Linked DNA regions of Homo sapiens: regions 1, 2, 3 and 4 are each linked to region 5. Evidence: fine-mapped expression QTL. A gene starts in region 5. Each other region holds a variant in brackets. All regions are shown on one strand. Distances are from middle to middle.

Region 1 (4,000 bases), 97 kb before region 5:
AGATTTAACCCAGCTGGAATAGATCAATTCGTTTAAGTTTTTTCTTTTCACAAGCTGTCAGTTTTGCCAACTTTTTAAAAGGTGACACTTCAAAGCACCAATATTTTTTTTTCAACAAGCAAGATGTGATCCTGCATTCTTAGCCCTGCTTTTTAAAATTAAATGACTAATGAAAACACTACCTTAGCAGCAGTCTCTTTCTTTAACTGCTCTTCCAAACTGATCTTTATTTCCTGAAGACTCTCAAGCTGTTGAGACTTCTCTCTTAATGTGGACTCCAACTGTGAAAAAGGAAAAAGCTGAAACTCACAGAAACTCCCTCTGGGCCCCAGTGCACTACCTAAAAGAGCCTAGAGCCTGGAGAATTACACCAAGACACTCGGGCTACACTGGGAATACTCCTCTCACCCTTTCAGCTCTGTGGATCCCCTCTGTATTCTTCCTGAACTATTCTTTCATTAACCATTATTAGGTGCCTACTATATTCTAAGGCCTCAAAATGGAGAAATCAGGGTAAACAGACATGTAAAGGATGAAGAAAGAAGCATTTAATTCTGCCAGAAAAGTTACAAAGGACTTCCTAGAGGAGATGACATTTGACTCCTACATTTTTACAGGGCAAAGACAAGGGTGACAAGGGGAGAAGATGGAGAGATACTCCAATAAGAGGGAATGGATGGCACGCACTAAAAACACATGCAGCAACAGTGGCATGTTCGGCTGGCCTACAGCACAGCACGTTGGGAGCCACAGGCACTGAGGCAGAGAGGTGTGAGGCAGGAGAGCTCTGGCTGGGCTAAGGATATGGACTTGATCCTGTAAAATAAAGGGAACTACGGGAGGGCTTTCCACTAGACTGGGACGCGAACAAGTTTCTAATGTTTAAATATCACCTTGATTTCAATATGGAGATGATTTAGGGACAAATTTTGGAGGCAGGGAAAGTTAGGCTGTTACAATAAGCCAGGTGAGAGTGAAGTCTGAACTCAAAGAGTGGCAGCTAGAATGGAAAGGATGAGATGTTATTTCGAGCGCTGGTAATTTCTGCTGGTGCAATATCAGTAGCAAAGTGGAGGCAGGAGGCAGACTGCAGCAGGTGGAGGGATGCCTGGGAAGTCAGGCAGTGATGATGATCAAGACTGTGGCAACAGAGGGAGGAAGAAAGAGTGGTAGCTCGGGAGAGGAGTGCAATCCAAAGACAGACTTTTTCCTTCTGAATATGAGACACCTGAGCCTGTTCATGCATAATGGAAAAGATCAGTCAAGAGGCAGAAGTTCAAGGCCCGGCACTGCGCGGGGACATCTGGAAAAGTCGGAGATACTCAGTCAAAGCACCTATGCAATGACACTGTGGTCAGAAGCAGGTCATGATATTCTCTGAAGAAAAAGAAAAGACTGGGAATAAAAGGAAAACCTGTAATTGAGGAGCCCAGTAGCTGAAGGTGGCCCTGCCTGATGCCTGAGGAGTGAGGCCAGCATCTGCTGAGAGTGAGGGGGCTGAGGTGAGGTGACTCTGAAACTGCCACTGTGAGGAATGGAAGAGACGCAACTTAGGACACATGAAAGGCTGCATGAGGAACACTGGAGGCCCATCTGGCAGCTTGAGCATGCAGTGTCACCAAGTCTCGTGGCATCAGCAGCTGGGGACAGCAAGACTAGTCCAAGGTTGGGCAGTGGTCAGGTGAGGGCAGCAGCAGGACAAGGAGTCAAAGACCATAGGGACAGGTGTGGTGGGAGATGAAGGGAAGAGGCAGGCCAGTAAGATGCAACCTAGGGGAAAGAAAGCAAGCCATGAAGCTGCTGAAACCAGAATGAAAGGGGAAGTTCAGAGAACTGGAGGTCTGAATGAGGTACTCCGATGGAAGAGCTGGAAGGATGGCAGATTGTGGTCAAGGAACTTAAGGCTGCAGTGAGATGTCACAGTTGGGCAAAATGCAGCCCAGTGTGTGG[A/G]AGGGGAGAGCAGGGTGGAGGTGAAAATCTCTAAATCAAGGAACAGTGAGGTCAGGAAGTTGAATGGGGTTACTATGAAAGGAACTAATGATGTCTAAGAGGACTAAGCCAGCTAGAAAATGTCATCTCTTGTTTGTAATGTTTTTTATACATATTTCTACTGTACCTCTAAGCATATAACATGTTATGACCATGCCTTGCCTATCTTCTCACTACACTGGAAACTCCAGGCCACAGTCACATCTTAGCCTTACCTCCTCCAGTTTAACGTAGCCTGACACACAGGGCACTCTCAATAAATCACCAGCACACCCTTACCCCGTGGTTTTCTTCCCACAAGACAAAAGTTCCTTAAGGCAGGGCCCATGCCTTAACTATTTTTTATTCGTTGGGTGCAGCATAGTAGGAGTCAGTAAATAACCACTGGTTGCTGATAGAATTAATTTGAAACTCACGACTTACCTGTCCTTTTTCCACTTTTATTCTTTCTAATTCAGCTTTTAGGCTAGAAATAGAAGCTAGAAGGAAAAAAATGAGATGTATTAGCATTCATCTATTATTGTGCATGAACATTTTTTTCTTTAAAATTTTAGAGCACCCCCCAAAGGATTCAAATGTATGCTGAACATGGGTTCCGGGGGCTGTCTCAAAATTACCACCAAGCAATCAGCATATTTAGGCTCAGGGAAAAGCAGGATCCATGCAAATGGACACTGTGTCATAAACTACCTCTAGATCATGTATCACATCTCTGCAGGGAAATGCCACCCATTGAATCACGTTCCCCTGGTTCTGGGTTCAAGTACTGAGAATCCTATCTATGAATAATTGCCAAAGAGGCCACAGAACTCCTAAAAAGACGAGTTTTCGGCCAGGCGCGTTGGCTTACAACTGTAATCCCAGCATTTGCAAGGCCGAGGCAGGCAGATCACCTGAGGTCAGGAGTTCGAGACCAGCTTGACCAACATGGAGAAACCCGTCTCTACTAAAAATACAAAATTAGCTGGGTGTGCTGGCACACATGCCTGTAATCCCAGCTACTCGGGAGGCTGAGGCAGCAGAATTGCCTGAACCTGGGAGGCAGAGGTTGCGGTGAGCCAAGATCGCGCCATTGCACTCCAGCCTGGGCAACAAGAATGAAACTCCGTCTCAAAAAAAAAAAAAAAAAAAAAAATTTTTTAAATAACCAGAATTTCTGATTATTTGACTATATCAGAATATATATTCAGAATCTGAATATATCAGAATATCTACAAAAAATGGACTGAGTCCTTACTAAATTCTTTCCTAAGCTTTTCTGTGTTCCAGACTCCATGGCCATGTATTGCTTCTTTTACTAAAGTTTTATTTAGTGACTCTAATTCTAAACTACATCACTTTTATCTTCACCTATTTCCTCCTTGCAGTTTTCTATTTCTAGTTGCAGAGTTTCTTCAAGATTTTCTTTTAAACACTGTTCTGCTTGGATCTGCTCTTTTAGGAAAAGTATCTCAGCCTTCAGCTTTTCTTCTACGTGGTCTGCTGCTGTCCGCACATTAATGATGTCCTCACGGTATTTTAATACCAACTCCCGCAGTGCCTGGATTCAAGAAACAAATGATTATTGGGTTTGTGAGAGTGAAAGGAAATAAAGAAGCTAAAGATTTTCTGTAACCAGAATCTCAGATGTTGTTTTAATGGTTCAAAAATTAAGACTTTGACCATTAAGCCACTTAGAGCTTCAGGGCAGGTGCCATGTCAGGTTAACATTCAGTATGTTATAGAAAAGACATTTCTGGCCAAGTCGTATCTTGTAAGCCACATACTCTTCCCTCAAAACTGTTTCATAAGCAGAAAAATAAAAAGATTAAGTGACTTACAATATGCCATTCAATAGAAATAATACCTTAGAATCCTCTACTATTACTTGCAGAAATTTGGGAGGAGTTAGGAAATGAAGACAAAACTGAGTAGCAAGTTCACACTCAGTAGCAAGTGTGAACTAAGAGGATAACATTTATTTACTTACTCACTTATTCATTCATTCAAACATTTACTAAACATCTACCAG
Region 2 (4,000 bases), 90 kb before region 5:
TGATGGTGAGTGTGTTATAACTTTTCAAGTACTAGATACAAAAACAAACGTCATAAGCAGCCAGCATGGTAACCCCTTCAAACATTTAATTTCTGGCACACTCTCAATCTGGGCCGACAAAAATAACATAGATCTTCAAAACATTAAGGCTACGTGAAAGAACATGGACACAAAAGACCACATATCGTATGATTCTATTCATAGGAAAGTCCAGAATAGGGAAATCTATAGAGGCAGAAAGGTTAGTAGTTGCTTAAGGCTAGGGGAGGAGGGGGAATAAGGATGGTAGCTAAAGGGCGAAGTGTTACTTTTTCGTGTGTGTGTGTGTGTGTGTGTGTGTGTGTGTGTGTGTGTGTGTTTAGCTGGTGTAGTCGGGTCACAGGGAGTTACTACTTGAGGTGATGAAAATGTTCTAAAATTGATTGTGATGATGGTTGCACACATCTGTGAGTACAGCAAAAACCACTGAATGGTACATTTTAAATGGTTGAATTGGCACGTGAATTATATCTGAATAAAACTGTTTACATAAAGAACATACGGCCATTTCAGAAAACGTACTTGTTGACATTTTTGATCATGTGGAAAGTAAGTTACCTCTGTAGTGTCTGGGAGGATGAAGTCTTCTGCTTGCTGTAATGACACATGCAGGCTGTGCTTTCCCTGGAGACTGTCATTATCTTTCTGTAACCTCACCAGCTCTTCTGAAACCTGTTCCCGTGACTGCATCAGCACCGCCTAAAATAGAAGTAGATACTAATCACAGCCAGAAAGGTAGATCCGGTCTGGTGATAGCTACACCAGAGAAAAACAAGTCCAAACTAAAGGAGTGCTGAGGATGGACGGGGTATGGTGAAGTTCTGCTAGACTTAGAAAAAGCTGCACAGAGATTTTCTGGTTTACAGCATATATTCAACAAGGGACAGGCAATGAAGCAAGTATCTGAGGCTCATTCTCCACTGTTTCTACAAACCGCTTAAAAATTCTATCTTTTGGTTGGGTGTGGTGGCTCACGCCTGTAATCCCAACACTTTGGGAGGCTGAGGTGGGTGGATTGCCTGAGCTCAGGAGTTTGAGACCAGCCTGGGCAAAACAGTGAAACCCTGTCTCTACTAAAATGCAGAAAGTTAGCTGGGTACAGCGGGGTGCCTGTAATCCCAGCAACTAGGGAGGGAGGCTGAGGCCGGAGAATCGCTTGAACCCAGGAGGCGGAGGTTGCAGTGAGCCGAGATTGCACCGTTGCGCCCATCCTGGGCCACAGAGCAAGACTCCATCTCAAAAAAAAAAAAAAATTAATATTTTCCCTCCATATCCCTGTACTACAGAAGGACCAGGATCTCTAGTTCAATGGAAGTGGCTGACACCATCAAGACCTATATCAGACAGAGCATGTACTCTAAGACAACTCCCATTTCCCCATGGCGTGCACTGGACAGAAAGGAGGGAGAAACAGAGTAGTGTCTTCATTTCCTATTATGTATACCTCTGTTTAGGCTCGGAATCACTGTGAATGGCCCAGCAGGCCCAGATACTGGAAGTCATCAAGAGCATCTAAGCTCAGGAATCACAGAGCACTTGAGAAGCTTATTCTTTTTTTTCTTTTGAGACAGTCTCGCTCTGTAGCCCAGGCTGGAATGCAGTGGTGTGATCTCGGCTCACTGCAACCTCCACCTCCCGAGTCCCGGTTCAAGTGATTCTCCTGCCTCAGCCTCCCAAGTAGCTGGGACTACAGGCACGCACCACCACGCCCAGCTCATTTTTTTGTATTTTTAGTAGAGGCAGGGTTTCACTATGTTGGCCAGGCTGGTCTCAATCTCCTGACCTCGTGATCCGCCCACCTCAGCCTCCCAAAGTACTGGGATTACAGGCGTGAGCCACCGCACCCAGCCAGAGAAGCTTATTCTTAAAATGGGACACACTCCCACTTCTGCTTGTTGATGTGTAAAACAATTTTAGGTATTTCATATTATTTGTATCAATATAAAAGTTATCCACCAAATCCGAGTATCAGATAAAGCTCTACAAAAGCACGTGACTCCTGCTAATCTGTAGTACTAAAGTCACTTACCTTAAGGGCACACATACATGTAGATGATGCTCTCATACGATGTTTATTGTGCAGCTACTACTCTATGCCACGTGTTTTGCTGCCCACAGGAAATACAGAGATAAAAGACAAAGACTTTGCCCTGGAGAAGCTCATGGTCCAATAGAGGAGAAAGACAAGTAAACCAAAAACTACTCTACAATACCATAAACTGCTATGACAGAGATTGGGTACTGCAGTGATAAAAGGACAAAGGGGTACCTAATTTGGGGCAGGAAATTGGGAAGAGGGTTAAAGAACACTTCCCAGAGGAGGCGATGACTGAGCTGCATTCTGAAGGACAAACAGGCCT[A/G]AGACAGGCAGTCACGGCCATGCATATGCTCTGGCTAAAGCCCACTGGCTCTTATTGTCTTCAGACTAGAATCCACTGTGCTTTATGATCACTGTCACCCATTTACAACAAAATCTTAGTATCCCACCACCTTCTGGATATGAAAGAAGGGAAAAAAGAATATGTATATATTTGCTTGTTTTTGTAAAGAGAAAAACAGAAGGATAAGCCAAAAATAAATTAAAATAATTACGTATAAGAGTGAGTGGAAATGGGGTGAAAAGGACAGGGAATGGAAATGGAGCTGAGTATTTATTTTTATACTTTTGATTATGAACCATGTTACATATTCAAAATATAAATCAAGAAAGAAAAATCAAATCTGAAAATGTAATATAAAGAGAAACAGCCCAGGCGCAGTGGCTCACGCCTGTAATCCCAGCACTTTGGGAGGCCGAGGCGGGTGGATCACGAGGTCAGGAGATCGAGACCATCCTGGCTAACACGGTGAAACCCCGTCTCCACTGAAAAAACAAAAAATTCTCCAGGCGTGGTGGCGGGCGCATGTAGTCCCAGCTACTCCAGAGGCTGAGGCAGGAGAATGGCGTGAGCCCGGGAGGCGGAGCTTGCAGTGAGCCGAGATCGCGCCACTGCACTCCAACCTGGGCGACAGAGCAAGACTCCGTCTCAAAAACAAAAAAAAAAAAAGAGAAACAAATGGAGCTAACTATATATCAAATTCCTAATACAACCACAGAGAGAAAAACTAACATTTGAACACAGTACTTAAACTGTAAACCCTTATCTGAGATACAGTCTAAGGGCAGAACTACAAAGAAATGTTGGCCTTTACTTAGTAGATTTGCTGTTGGTAGTAATATTGATATAGTCATTCTGAAACTATTTTGTCCCCACCTTAACCGAGTGATCAAATTTAACATCCCCAGTAATGGAAGCACCCATCATTAACGTGCCTCATTATGTTATGAACCTCCCATTGAACCATTTCATCTGTGCAGTATTCTTGCCAAGATGTCTAACCTGAATCAAATCACAAGGAGATAATCAGACAAATGAATTCTACAAGACAGATGGCCTGAAACAAAGCAATTGGCCGGATTCTTAAAAATAAAAAGAGAGTGGGAGACTGTTCTAGATGAAAAGTGACTAAAGCGACATGGCAACAAGATGAAATATGTGATCACTGATTGGTTCCTGGATCAAAATATAGAAAATATAAAAAGGAAAACCACCACTAAAAAGTAATCAAGGACTTACTGGGACAACTGGTTAAATTTTAAGGATGTAATAACAGTACTGTAGCGATGCAGAACAACTCTTTGTTTTAGGAAATACATACTAAAATACTTACGACTGTCATGTCTACAATAACTCCAAACAGTCCAGCAAAAAACACAAACCAAGACATACGTACACACACACATCATATACCTACAAACATACACAGAAAGACTAAGAACAAGGGCAAGCATGCACTAACGTGGTGAGTTTCTCTTCTTTATGGTAATTTCAACAAAATGGTCATGTACTGGAGTTCATAGGACCTCAACCTTAATTTCAACAGTTCTCCAGTGTCACTGACACACATTCATTTTAAGTGA
Region 3 (4,332 bases), 30 kb after region 5:
CAAGGAGCTCCTGCCCACACTCCTTTCTTTGGCATCCAATCCATTCCAGATCCTGCTGACAGTGTTGGCTTCCCACAACCCACTCCTTTCTGAAATGCTCGGGTGCTGGCCCATCACCGGGGGATCGTCTACACCCCTCCGTCTGGCTTCTGAGTTCTCCATGTTCTGACTGACACTCACCCTTCCCAACCCCAGGCTCACCTTTCTTTCTTTTTTTTTTTTTTGACAGCTTTATTGAGTTATGATTGACATGAAATAAACCGCACCCATGGCCAGGCGAGGTGGCTCGTGCCTGTAATCCCAGCACTTTGGGAGGCTGAGGCGAGTGGATCACAAGGTCAGGAGATCGAGGCCATCCTGGCTAACATGGTGAAACCCCGTCTCTACTGAAAATGCAAAAAATTAGCCGGGCGTGGTGGCATGCGTCTGTAAACCTAGCTACTCAGGAGGCTGAGGCAGGAGAATTGCTTGAACCCAGGGGGCAGAGGTTGCAGTGAGCTGAGATCGCACCATTGCACTCCAGCCTGGGTGACAGAGCGAGACTCCATCTCAAAAAAAAAAAAAAATCAACTGACTATATATGTGCAGGTCTATTGCTTGACTTTCTTTTCTGTTTCACTGATCTATTTATGTATTACCTGCAACAATAACACATTGTTTTTTTTACTGTAGCTTTATGAGAATTCTTGAATCAAGTAGTAAGTCCTCCAACTTATTCTGCTTCAAAGTTATTTTGGCTATTCTAGGTACTTTGCATTTCTAAATAAATTTTAGAATCAGCTCATTCTACCAAATAAAGCCCACCAAGGTTTTGATTGGAACTGTGTTGATTTTGTAGATCAATTTGTGGAGAATTGAAATCTTACCAATATTGAGTCTTACGATCCATGAATATGATAGAACTTTCATTTATTTTGATTTTCTTTATTTCGATTTTCTTTATTTCTTTCTTAATTTTTTTTTGACAGAGTCTTGCTCTGTCACCCAGGCTGGAGTGCAGTGGCATGATCTCAGCTCACTGCAACCTCCGCCTCCCAGGTTCAAGCAATTCTCCTGCCTCAGCCTCCCCAGTAGCTGGGATTTCAGGCACGTGCCACCATACCTAGCTAATTTTTGTATTTTTAGTAGAGACGGATTTCACCATGTTGGTCAGGCTGGTCTCGAACTCTGACCTCAAATGGTCCACCGGACTTGGCCTCCCAAAGTGCTGGAATTACAGGTGTGAACCACAGCATCCGGCCCTTTTAGTACTTTTTAAATGTTGCTTTAGCATCTTCTGCATCACATTAACTCCCAAAAAGAAGATTGCTGTCATTTTTATATTTGTTTTTTTCTCTGGCTGCTTTTATATCTTCTCTTCATTGCTGTTTGTAAGTAGCCCGATTAAGATGCACCTTGGGCTGGGCGTGGTGGCTCACGCCTGTAATCCCAGCACTTTGGGAGGCCGAGGCGGGCGGATCATGAGGTCAGGAGATCGAGACCATCCTGGTTAACACGGTGAAACCCCGTCTCTACTAAAAAAATACAAAAAAATTAGCCGGGCATTGTGGTGGGCACATGTAGTCCCAGCTACTCGGGAGGCTGAGGCAGGAGAATGGCGTGAACCCAGGAGGCGGAGCTTGCAGTGAGCCGAGATCGCGCCACCGCACTCCAGCTTGGGTGACAGAGCGAGGCTCCGTCTCAAAAAAAAAAAAAAAAAAAAAGATGCACTTTGATTAGTGTTCTTCATGATTCTTGTGCTTTGGGTTCATTGAGCTTGCTGGGTGGGTGTATTATCTACGGGTGTATCATTCTCATCAAGTTAGGAAAAATTTTTCCCTTATTTCTTTGAATATATTTTTCTGTACCTCCTCCTTTTGGAAATGGAGTCTCGGTTATTGGAAACTCCAGTTACACGTACATTAGGCTTCTGGAAGTTATCCCCCAACTCACTGTCATTTATTCTCAGCCGTTGTCTTTCTCTGTATTTCACTTCAGATTACTTTCTTTTCCTTTTTCTTTTTTCTTTCTCTCTTTTTTTTTTTTTGAGAAGGAATTTCACTCTTGTTGCCCAGGCTGGA[G/A]TGCAGTGGCGTGATCTCGGCTCACCGCAACCTCCACCTCCCAGGTTCAAGTGATTCTCCTGCCTCAGCCTCCTGAGTAACTGGGATTACAGGCATGCACCACCACGCCCGGCTAATTTTGTATTTTTAGTAAAGACTGGGTTTCTCTATGTTGGCCAGGCTGGTCTCGAACTCCTGACCTCAGGTGATCCGCCTTCCTCGGCCTCCCAAAGTGCTGGGATTACAGGTGTGAGCCACCACGGCCCGCCCGGATAATTTCTATTACTGTGTCAAATTCATTAATCTGTGGTCTGCAGTGTGTAATCTGCTGCAAATTCCATTCAGTGTACTTTTCATCTCTAGAAGAGATAGATGATAGATACACTCATATATACATACATAGTCTATCAGTATCTATATATCTTCTATGTCTCTACATAACATGCTCTTGTCCACTAATCTCATCATCTCTGTTATTCCTGGGTCTGTTGCAATTGATTTTTCTCTTCATCATGAAAGTATTTTTCAGATTTATTGAATACTTGGTAATTTTTCACTGAGGGATGTTATTTTAGATAAAATCAAAGCCTCTCTGAGGAGGGCAACATTAGGTTGGAAAATAAGAATAGTTGACCCTTTAACAACACAGGGGTTAGGGGTGCCAACCCCTGGTGCAGTTGACATCCCACATGTTATTGGTAAGGCTTCTGGTCAATAGTAGGCTTAACTGCTAATAGCCTGCTGTTGACCAGAAGCCTTACCAATAACATTAACAATCGATTAACACATTTTGTATGTTATATGTATTATATACTGTATTCTTACAGTAAAGTAAGATAGAGAAAAGAAAATGTTATTAAGAAAATCATAGGCCAGGTGCAGTGGCTCACACCTCTAATCCCAGCACTTTGGGAGGCTGAGGCAGGCAGATTACTTGAGGCCAGGAATTCGAGACCACCTGACCAACATGGCAAAACTCCATCTCTACCAAAAATACAAAAATTAGTCGGACATGGTGGTGGGCTCCTGTAATCCAAGCTATTTGGGAGGCAGAGGCAGGAGAATTGCTTGAACCTGGGAGGCAGAGGTTGCAGTGGGCAGAGATTGCACCACTGTACTCCAGCCTGAGCGACACAGCAAGATTCCGTCTCAAAAAAAAAAAAAAAAAAAAGGCCAGGTGCAATGGCTCATCATACCTGTAATCCTAGCACTTAGCACTTTAGGAGGCCGATGTGGGTGGATCACCTGAGGTCGGGAGTTCGAGACCAGCCTGACCAACATGGAGAAACCCCATCTCTACTAAAAATACAAAATTAGCCGGGTGCGGTGGCGCATGCCTGTAATCCCAGCTACTCAGGAGGCTGAGGCAGGAGAATCACTTGAACCCGGGAGGCAGAGGTTACAGTCAGCTGAGATCACGCCATTGCACTCCAGCCTGAGGCAACAAGAGCGAAACTCTCTCAAAAAAAAAAAAAGAAAGAAAGAAAAAGAAAAAAGAAAATCATAAAGAAGACAAATTATATTTACTATTCATGACATGAATATTTAAGAATATTTGTTTTATTTTTTTACATTTAAATTTTAACTAAAATCTGGAATTAGTTTTGATGTGTGAAATATGATTCCAATTTTACCAACGAATTTTTTTCCCCTTCCGCCAGCACTTGGCAACCATCATTCTACTTTCTCTTTGTATGAATTTGCCAATTTTAGGTACCTCAATATAAGTGGAATCATACAATTTTTTTTTTTTAAAGACAGAATCTCGCTCTGTCACCCAGGTTGGAGTGTAGTGGCACGATCTCAGCTCACTGCAACTTCTGCCTCCCGGGTTCAAGTGATTCTCCTGCCTCAGACTCCTGAGTAGCTGGGATTACAGGCATGCACCACCATGCCCAGCTAATTTTTGTATTTTTAGTAGAGACGGGGTTTCACCATGTTGACCAGGCTGGTCTCAAACTCCTGACCTCAAGTGATCTGCCTGCTTCGGCCTCCCAGAGTGCTGGGATTACAGGCGTGAGCCACCGCGCTCAGGCACAATGTTTATTTTTTATGTCTGGCTTGCTTCACTTTAGTATTGCATCCTCCAGATTCATTCCTGGTGTCGCATGTACCAGAACTTCCTCTCTTATTAAGGCTGAATAATATTCCACTGTATTTTTTTTTTAATTGAGATGGAATCTCACTCTGTCACCCAGGCTGGAGTACAGTGGCGCGATCTCGGCTCACCGCAAGCTCTGCCTCCTGGGTTCAAGCGATTCTCCTGCCTCGGCCTCCCAAGTAGCTGGAATTA
Region 4 (4,713 bases), 410 kb before region 5:
CCTTTGGACCAATATCAGAAAGGCATGAAAGAGACAGCTGGTCTATAGAGTGAGTGACTAAGTCCAGCAGTGTCTGGATGTCTGCAAGGACCAGAAACAGATATTGGCAAGGAGATTCTCAGAATCTCTCAAGGAGGACCCAAATGCTGAAATTCAGGCTGGGATGCTACATTCACCAGCTGGAATATCACCAGGTATCCAGGATCAGAAGCACTTCCTGGTCACACACAGTCATCTTAGAGATGTACCTCAGCCCAGTGTCTGTGTTCAGGCCACCTTGCCTCCTCTTTACTGAGCCAAGCTTCCCCAAAGTTCTCCAGGAGAAAGTCTCTCCCTTGCAGATCTCCAGACCCAGGCGTCCTTCACAGGGCTGCCTTCCCTGAGTGACAGGGGCCTGCCTCAGCTGCCACCACTTAAACAGCTCCAGCGGAAGCCTCTCATAAGACTTGACCAAATGTGCTTTAAGGTGGAGATTACAAAAACAACCCACAACATACCAGCCCAGCAAACAGACATCCTGGGAATAACCAAATTGGTGGCTCCCAGCAGCTCTGCCCTCTCATTGCAGCCTGGGTCCCTGAATCCTCCCAGAACGAGGGTATATTCGTCTGTTTTTATACTCCTATAAAGAACTGCCTGAGACCGGGTAATTGATAAAGGAAAGAGGTTTGGTTGACTCACAGCTCATCATGTCTGGGGAGGCCTCAGGAAACTTACAATCATAGCTGGGGAGGCCTCAGAAAACTTACAATTATGGCAGAAGGTGAAGGGGAAGCAAGGTACCTTCTTCATAAGACAGCAGGGAGGAGAAATGCCAAGCAAAGGGGGAAGAGCCCCTTATAAAACCATCCGATCTCTTGAGAATTCACTATCGTGAGAACAGCACAGGGGAAACCACGCCCATGATCCAATTACCTCCACCTGGTCTCTCCCTTGACACATGGGGATTATGGGAATTGTGGGGATTGTAGTTCAAGATGAGATTTGGGTGGGGACACAAAGCCTGATCATATCATAGGGTAAATGGTAAAACTAGCCTTCTTGTTACAGCCATATAGCACAAAGTTTATGAGCCCTGTTGCTGGGTCAGGCTGCCTGGGTCCACAGGCCAACTCCCCCAGTCACTGGTTGTATGAAAGTGGGAAAGTTAATATCTCTGTGCCTCTGTTTCCTCATCTATAATATGGAGAACATAACAGTACTAGGGTTATTGTGAAGATAAATGGAGTTGATAAACGCAATGTGCTTAGGACAGCAGTTGGCCTAAGGTAGGCTCATGGAAGCGTTGGCTGTTCTTATTATACAAGAGTCTTGGGGAATGCCTTGGAGTGCAGTTTGGTTCTCCTGTTTTTATTGGGCCAAGCTTGACTATGTCTAGACCACGCGTTGCTGGCGTTACATTCCAAGTGTGCCTACTTACAGGATCGCATGGGATGCAGCTACAGAAACTGTGCTTGGCACAGCCATGATTCCTGCTCCCAGGGATGTCCCAGACCAAAGAAAGACAAAACTGCCTCCTCTCATATTTATCTGAAGAACCAGAGTAAGCACGTATCATTATTTGTTTTACAGTCGAGTTGAGTCAGACAAGAGAATACACATATATTTATTCTGAAAAAGGAACAGACTTCCTTGAAGGGTCCACCAGAGCCAGTAAAAAAGACTGATGTGTTAGGTATTTGGAAGAAGAAAGGAAGCTGGAGATTAAGTGCAGCAAGAGGCATTTTAATGTTCCTAGTAACTGATTTATAAATTCCTTGTTAAGGCTCTGCTCGCTTGATTCTTTGCCGTGAATATAGCATCACCATTTTTCCATTTTATAGTCTTGGCGGGAGATGGCCTTTTGCGGAGCTGCCACTTAAAGCACTTAACTGTGCCCCGGGGCATCTTGGGAAAAGGCTGATGGTAAGAGCCTGTCGTTGCCCCAGGGGAAGAGCTGTCCCCAGTGCAGTATGGGCTTAGACAGGCCCCTCCCTCTCTCGTTGGGCTCCAGCCCCTCCTCCTCCCCTGCTCTTCCCTTCCTCCCTTCCGCCTCTTCAGAGCTTACCTGCACTCCTGGGAGTCTGGAAACTGCTCCTGCAAACCCCCAGCCCTTGGCTTCTTCCTTGAATAACCAGAATTTCATTCCCATCTTTGGGAAATACCATTTCAGGCTGCTTAAGTTATGATTTAAAGCAGGATAAACCCAAGCCGATGACAACTTTTGGAGGGTTTTTCATTGATCATTTCTTCTGTTACTCTCTTGGCCTGAGTGATGACAAATGAATAGTTCTCCAGGATCCTTTTCTACAAGCAGCGCCTCCCTAAGCACGCTTCTTCTCAGAGTGGAGAGTGGAAGTTCAACTTCGAGGTCAGACAGACCTGGCTCCAACACTTACTCACAGATGGGAGCTTCTCCAAGTCTCAGCGTCCTCACCGGTAAAATGGGGACATGATTAACA[C/A]CTGCCTCAAAAAGCTCTGATGTTATTCCATAACTTCTTGCAAGGAAGGCGAGGCCGGCAAGCCGGCTGTTACCATCATGGGTCACCTGGCTGAGTCCAAACAGGGCGTGTTAGCCCGAGCCCTTGGCGGAGACCCAGGCATCAGATCTGTAGCTCAGCGTGGCTCATGGTGAGGGTAGCAAGGGCCCCTGGGGGAGCCACCCACCTTGTGCTGGGCACTGAGTCAGTGACTGAACCCAGGCTGGGCACACAGAGGGCCTGCTTCTCCCACCTGAAGGCCAGCTGGTAAAGCAGAAGCACATGGATATTTGAGTCAAAAAGACCCAGGTTCTTATTAAAAACAAAAATAAATATAATAAAATCAAAATAAGAGAGTTGTCAGGGTGTGGTGGCCTGTAATCTCAGCATTTTTAGAGGCTGAGGCAAGACAATTGCTCGAGTCCAGGAGTTCAAGACTACCCTGGCCAACATAGCAAGACCCCATCTCTACTGTTGAAAAAATGAAAAATAAAAATAAAAGCCAGTCTCAACATTTCAGCATTACTTTTACCCCTCCCTTCCCCTCTCCTTTCCTCTCTTCTCCCTCCTCCCTTCCCCTCCCACCTCTCTCCCCGACTCTCACTCCCCTCAGTGCCCCAGCAAATAGAAGGGTCATAATATTATTGGGGTCATCAAATAAGATAATGGATATAAAGGGACTCTGTCAACTCTAAAGCACTTTATGAATATTCACTTTGATGGAAGAGTCCTCTGGGGATTTCTATGGTTGGGGGAGCCTGGTTGGCACTAAACAAGAAGAGCAAAACTCTCTCTTCCTGCTCTCGAGATGACAGCATTGGGGCCTCATCATATTAGAAAACAAAACCCAGGCTGGGAGGTGAGAACCAAATCCCAGTCACCACAGCAATTGGGCTGGTCAGCTGAGGTCACCCTGTCCTTTCACATTGGAATAAGATTGGCCCAAGCACTGAATCCTAAGATGTCTCTGAGTTCTCAGGGGCTCAAAGTCTGGGGATTACTTTCAACTCTGCATTGTAGCTTCAAATTCCGGCTGGCGTTCGTCTCAAAAGTAACAGCTAACATTTATTAAGCTGTTCAGAGTGCTTTGTGCGTATTAGACCATCCACTCCTCACAACCCCCTGTGAGGTAGAAATTATTAACCCCATTTAACAGATGATGGGAATGGGGCACAGAGAGGCGAAGTAACTTGCCCGAGGACACAGAGCTAGGACACTAACTATGGCAGCCAGGCACCAGCGCCCAAGCTCCTAACCTCCAGTGCCTCTATCTCATCACAATTTTTTTTTTTTTGAGACAGAATTTTACTCGTGTGACTCAGGCTGGGGTGCAGTGGAGTGATCTCAGCTCACTGCAACCTCCACCTCCCAGGTTCAAGCGATTCTCCTGCCTCAGCCTCCAGAGTAGCTGGAATTACAGGCATCTGCCACCACACCCGGCTAACTTTGTATTTTTAGTAGAGACGGGGTTTCACCATGTTGGCCAGGCTGGTCTTGAACTCCTAACCTCAGGTGATCCGCCCGCCTCAGCCTCCCAGGGTGCTGGGATTACAGGTGTGAGGCACCACGCCGGGCTTCATCACATTTTAACTCCCATGCGCTACTCCACTCCAACCTGGGCAACAGAGCGAGACTCGGTCTCAAAAAAAAAAAAGAAGCAACTCAAGTGTCCATCTTTATCCAATGAACGGATAAAGAAAATGTGGTTAATACATATGATGGGATATTATTGGATGTAATTAATTAATTACTTAATACTAATGGAATATTATTCACCCTCCATTCAGTGCACCTCCTCTCACTTTATTATGCCAAGCATTCAGTCCTAGCCCCGTCAGGACCCAGCGCTTGCCCTTTCAGGCCAAAGAGGCAAAAAATGGCATGACTGTGGCCTCTGCAGGAGTCCTCCATCCACATAGAGCCTGGTCTTGAAATTTCATTCTTCCCCTTCTCCCTCCCTGACCTTGTAAGTGGAAGATCAGGATTTATTTTCCCACTGAGATAGACTGTGCCCACCCCATCAGAGGTTCCTACAGTGGGATTTGGTGTGAAATGACACATTTTTTCACCCTTTTTCACAAGATATCATGTCTGTCTACAAAACTGTCTCTGGACTGGGCAAAATGGATTAAATCAATGGGGTGTGAGCAAACCAGTAAATAGTGTGGGAGGAAAATATTAGAACATTTATATTTTTATATAAAAATAAGAAATTAAACTATGTGTTAAATATTAACATAGTTTAGGAATGTAC
Region 5 (4,625 bases):
TCTCTCCTACTGTAAAAAGTAGCCATGGCTACCTACATTAATTTAAAATAAAAATTGCAATCTATGCAAACTAAATCTCATCCTAGAGTCACAAGATTTGAGAAATAGGAAAGAAACCTGAACTAAAATACCAAGAATACAAGATTTCCTAAAGCTAGTTTTCCCTAGCCTCGTTCAAGTGCTTAGTCACTTCTGCCTATTTACAAGGAAGACCATTTCATATCTTCAAAGAGGCAGGGAATTTTGATTCCAGACGGTCATGTCACCTGAGCTGCCCTAGACGTTTCTTTCCATGCAACTCAAGAGAAGGCAGCAGCCAGCTATGCATACCTACCACTCCTGTTCAGAACCACAAGCTCTCTGTATCTTGCCTCTGTGTGCAGTAACAAAGTGGGATTGTGGAAGAACAAAGTTTTCTTGCCTGACACCAAATGCAAAAGGTGATCATTAAAATGCAGCCTGAAGACATCCCAGTTTCCTCTCTCTGACAGCCCACCAAAAATGCTTCCCTTCCCTTCTCCTGGAACAGAAACAGCAAAGCAGGTTCTTATAAAAGTCTAAATGCTTACTGGACATCTCCCCTTAGGCAAGCAACAACACCCAAAACTACAGGCTAACAGGCTCTGAAGCACATTTCCCAGAGAGCAGCCAGAACCTTAAAATCTGATAACATGGTTTCAAGTTCCCCAAAGGCAAAAATAAAAAGTAAGGGTTTCACGAAAGGTTATTTTGAGACAACCCCAAGGAAAGCCAAGTTTTAAAGTACCTACTCCGTACCAAGCCCCTTTTCCCAACATTCTACTCTACTCACACTTAAAGATGCTAAGCACACACGCTGATTATAGAAATACACCAGAAAGTACTTTCACAACTAGATACAGTGGGACCTTGGAAAAGCCCAAGCACACTATTTCCAAACATCTATTCTAGGTGGTAAAACCTGGAACCATGTAGTCAATCTGTGAAGCACAGCTTAGTCCAATTTCCCAGAAGGTCACGAAGGGCTCTGACAACCAACTTTGATTATTTAGGATGGGGCCCTTTTTTCCTTCCAAGAATATAAATGACACATTTCTTCGACTTCACTTTTTTTTTTTTAGTTCCACAAGCAAATATCTTCAAGTAGTGCAAGTAGGCCTCAGCATTCTCAAACACTATTCTCATTATTCCTAATACCTCCATAATACTATTATTGTATATACACATTCGTGTTGCTATTTTTATAGATAAAATATAAAGGCATGAATTAACCTCTTGGTTAATTCGTGGGTGAGAATACTGAGGCTCAACGAGGCTAAGAAATGAGCCCAGAGCTTGCTGGTTAAGAATACAGGTCCTCTAGACTCCCAGGCCCCAACACTTAACCATTAAGCCACACTGCCATTCAGGGAATGCTACTAAATCCAGTTACTGTACACAACTACTTTCAGGTCACATAACTGGGTGCAAAGAGTTCTATAGCAAGGATTGGGGCGGCAGGGAGGGTACACTACCTAAGCTAAGATTTTTTTTCTTTAACGAATATAGCACATGTTCCCGATTTCCATCCTCCCCCACGGGCAGAACCCACGTGCCGGTCCCCCGCTACCCAGAACCGCTCCCTCCCCACACTACCCCACGCTACCCAGCAGCCTCCCCACGCCCTTCCCTCTGCCCTCCCGCAAGCGCTGCACCCGCGCCTCCCGCCCCCTCCCCAGCGACGGCAGCCGGGGCGCCCGCGCCGCCCTCGCGCGCCGCAGCCCGCGCGCCCCCGCCTCCGCCCGGCGGGGTCACCCCCGGGGCCTGCGCGCGCCCTTGCCGCCGCCTGCCCGCCCCGAAATCCTCCCGCGACGCCGACGCCGGGCAGGCCGCGCCCGCCGCGCCTGCCATGGTGGGCGCCTCACCGTCAGGCTGGGAAGCCGGGCCCGGCTGCGCCATGACCAGGCGGCCGGCCTCGGGGAGCGGGGATGGGCGGGGAAGCGGCGTCCTGGGCTCCCGCGGGCTCAGCTGGCGGAGGAGGCGTCAACCGAGCCGCCGCCGCCGCCGCCCAGAGAGAAACCGCTAAGGCTGGATCCGCCGGCGCCGCCACAGCCGCGGGCAGAGACGGACCCGACCGCCGACCTCCGCCTCCTCATCCTGACAGCGGGAAATAAGCAGTGCGCAGGCGCAGGGGGATGGGGCGGCACGTGACGTTGGCCCGAGGGGAGGGGCGGGGCCTCGGGAGCGCGGAGGGAGCGCGGAGGGAGCGCGGAGGGAGCGCGGAGGGAGCGCGGAGGGAGCGCGGAGGGAGCGCGGAGGGAGCGCGGAGGGAGCGCGGAGGGAGCGCGGCGGGAGGGGAGGGTTTCGGCGGAGCTGGGCGCCTGACCCAGCGGCGCGGGGAGGCTGAGTGCCGAGCGGAGCTGGAGAAGAGGGGCTGCAGCAGAGGCCTGGCCTCTCGAAGGTGCCGGTCCCGGTTCTCCACCCCAGCACAGTGAGGGGAAAAAAAAAAATGAGTAAGAGAGGAGGACCGATGGCGGGGTGCAGTTCCAGCCTCTACCTCTTCTAGCTTTGCGACCTTGGGAGAGTCACTTCACCTCTTGGAATTTTTATCAATATAATGGCTAAGAAAAGTTTAAACGAGGTAATAAAGTATGAAGAACTGTTTCCGACAGTACTGGGCCTGGACCCCAGGTCTTCTGGTGCAGAGGCCAGTATACTATCCATTCAGCAAATACGTTTGGGTTTTCAGTCGTGATAGATGCTGGAGATACAGCCAGGTACAGACCCTGCACTCATGGCAGGAAAGGAGAAATCATATACACAAAGTGTGGCCCTTATACTTGGGCCCCTGGGCCCTATACTTTAGGAACTCCCCTCTAATCACCACTCCCCGTCTGATTTCGACACCTGGAGTGCCCCATGCCAAGGAGGTAGTTTAAAAAGCTTTTTTTTTTTTTTTGGAGATAGAGTCTCACTCTGACACCCAGGCTGGAGTGCCATGGTGCGATCTCGGCTCACTGCAACCTCTGCCTCCCGGGTTCAAGCAATTCTCCTGCCTCAGCCTCCCGACTAGCTGGGACAACAGGCGCACGCCACCACACCCGGCTAATTTTTGTATTTTTAGTAGAGACGGGGTTTCACTATGTTGGTCAGGCTGGTCTCAAACCCTTGACCTCGTGATCCGCCTGCCTCAGCCTCCCAAAGTGCTGGGATTACAGGCGTGAGCCACCGCGCCCGGCCTAAAAAGCTATTTTGAAATCAGAGAGGAGCATCAGGAATTATGTACATTTTAAGACCCAGCAATCCCACCCCAGGATGAGGGAGTCCACAGGGTTTGGCACTTCAGGACCAAGTTCTGAATACTTGTGGCCCCAGAATTCCCTTTCCAGATGGCTGAAGCTGTGGTCTCTTTCCCAGATCCATTCTCTCTATGGCAGAGTCTAGACATCCCTAAAAGAAGCTAAAGTGAAAGCATAAAGAATGAGTTCATGTCCTTTGCAGGGACATGCATGAAGCTGGAAACCATCATTCTCAGCAAACTAACACAGGAAAAGAAAACCAAACACCTCATGTTCTCACTCATAAGTGGGAATTGAATAATGAGAACACATGGACACAGGGAGGGGAACATCACACACCGGGGCCTGTGGGGGGTGGGGGGAAGGGGAGGGAGAGCATTAGGACAAATACCTAATGCATGCGGGGCTTAAAACCTAGATGACGGGTTGATAGATGCAGCAAACCACCATGGCACATGTATACCTATGTAACAAACCTGCACGTTTAGCACATGTATCCAAGAATTTAAAGTATAATAAAAAAATAATAATAGGCCGGGCACAGTGGCTCACGCCTGTAATCCCAGCACTTTGGGAGACTGAGGCAGGTGGATCACGAGGTCAGGAGTTCAAGATCAGCCTCTCCAAGATGGTGAAACCCCATCTCTACTAAAAATACAAAAAATTAGTCGGGTGTGGTGGCAGGCGCCTGTACTCCCAGCTACTCGGGAGGCTGAGGCAGAGAATTGCTTGAACCCAGAAGGCGGAGGTTGCAGTGAGCCAAGATCGCACCACTGCCAGCCTGGGCGACAGATCGAGACTCCATCTCAAATAATAATAATAATAATCAGAAAATCCACTAATTAGAATCAGTTTCTACTTTCTTTAAATCATTTGTTTTAAATAAGGTATACTTTTATTAAAATGATTATTTCTCACTGAAAAAAAGGGAGGCTAAAGGGCAGCTTTGTTTTATTTTAAGGGGGTGACACGACACTTGGGTGTTTGAGCTCCTATGTCCACAGATCCCTCATGGTGCAGGACAGAGGTGAGAAAAGAAGGCAAGTGAGCCAAGAGACAATAGTTGGGCCAGGGCCTGTGCTGCTTTCGCCACCTCATTCATGGGCATAACTCCCAGGAGCCCAGGAATTCTAAATTTAAACCTGGTCTTCCAGGTCTTAAACAGGTAGATTTGTCCAAGTAGAAGGATAGACTGTATTAAGGTTAGCGGTTAATTGGAGTAGTTTGTAATTTTATTTTATTTTATTATTTATTTAATTTTTGGAGACGGAGTCTCTCACTCTATTGCCCAGGCTGGAGGGCAGTGGCACCATCTCAGCTCACTGCAACCTCCACCTCCCGGATTCCAGTGATTCTCCTGCCTCAGCC

The links. PIP is the estimated chance that this variant, and not a neighbour inherited with it, causes the effect. A credible set is the group of variants that fine-mapping cannot tell apart.
Region 1: its variant is the best candidate, but not a certain one, in a credible set for the expression of RABEP1 in esophagus muscle (GTEx, PIP 0.58).
Region 2: its variant is the best candidate, but not a certain one, in a credible set for the expression of RABEP1 in vagina (GTEx, PIP 0.89).
Region 3: its variant is the best candidate, but not a certain one, in a credible set for the expression of RABEP1 in non-classical monocytes (Schmiedel 2018, PIP 0.62).
Region 4: its variant is the best candidate, but not a certain one, in a credible set for the expression of RABEP1 in tibial nerve (GTEx, PIP 0.82).

What each region holds. Positions count from the first base shown.
Region 1 is chr17:5,376,645-5,380,644 of GRCh38, reverse strand. It overlaps RABEP1 (rabaptin, RAB GTPase binding effector protein 1), which reads right to left. Exons shown (of 18, transcript NM_004703.6): 14 at 3,340-3,529; 15 at 2,413-2,468; 16 at 183-281. Among named protein-coding and RNA genes, the nearest start is that of NUP88, 41 kb to the left of the region's middle. The variant A/G (reference allele first, on the strand shown) is at 1,951.
Region 2 is chr17:5,370,052-5,374,051 of GRCh38, reverse strand. It overlaps RABEP1 (rabaptin, RAB GTPase binding effector protein 1), which reads right to left. Exons shown (of 18, transcript NM_004703.6): 13 at 598-738. Among named protein-coding and RNA genes, the nearest start is that of NUP88, 48 kb to the left of the region's middle. The variant A/G (reference allele first, on the strand shown) is at 2,400.
Region 3 is chr17:5,250,353-5,254,684 of GRCh38, reverse strand. No RefSeq gene overlaps it. Among named protein-coding and RNA genes, the nearest start is that of SCIMP, 18 kb to the right of the region's middle. RefSeq lists an enhancer at 1-167. The variant G/A (reference allele first, on the strand shown) is at 2,061.
Region 4 is chr17:5,691,896-5,696,608 of GRCh38, reverse strand. No RefSeq gene overlaps it. Among named protein-coding and RNA genes, the nearest start is that of NLRP1, 110 kb to the right of the region's middle. The variant C/A (reference allele first, on the strand shown) is at 2,442.
Region 5 is chr17:5,279,779-5,284,403 of GRCh38, reverse strand. It overlaps RABEP1 (rabaptin, RAB GTPase binding effector protein 1), which reads right to left and starts at 2,120. Exons shown (of 18, transcript NM_004703.6): 1 at 1,884-2,120. The coding sequence starts at 1,917. RefSeq lists a silencer at 1,681-2,400.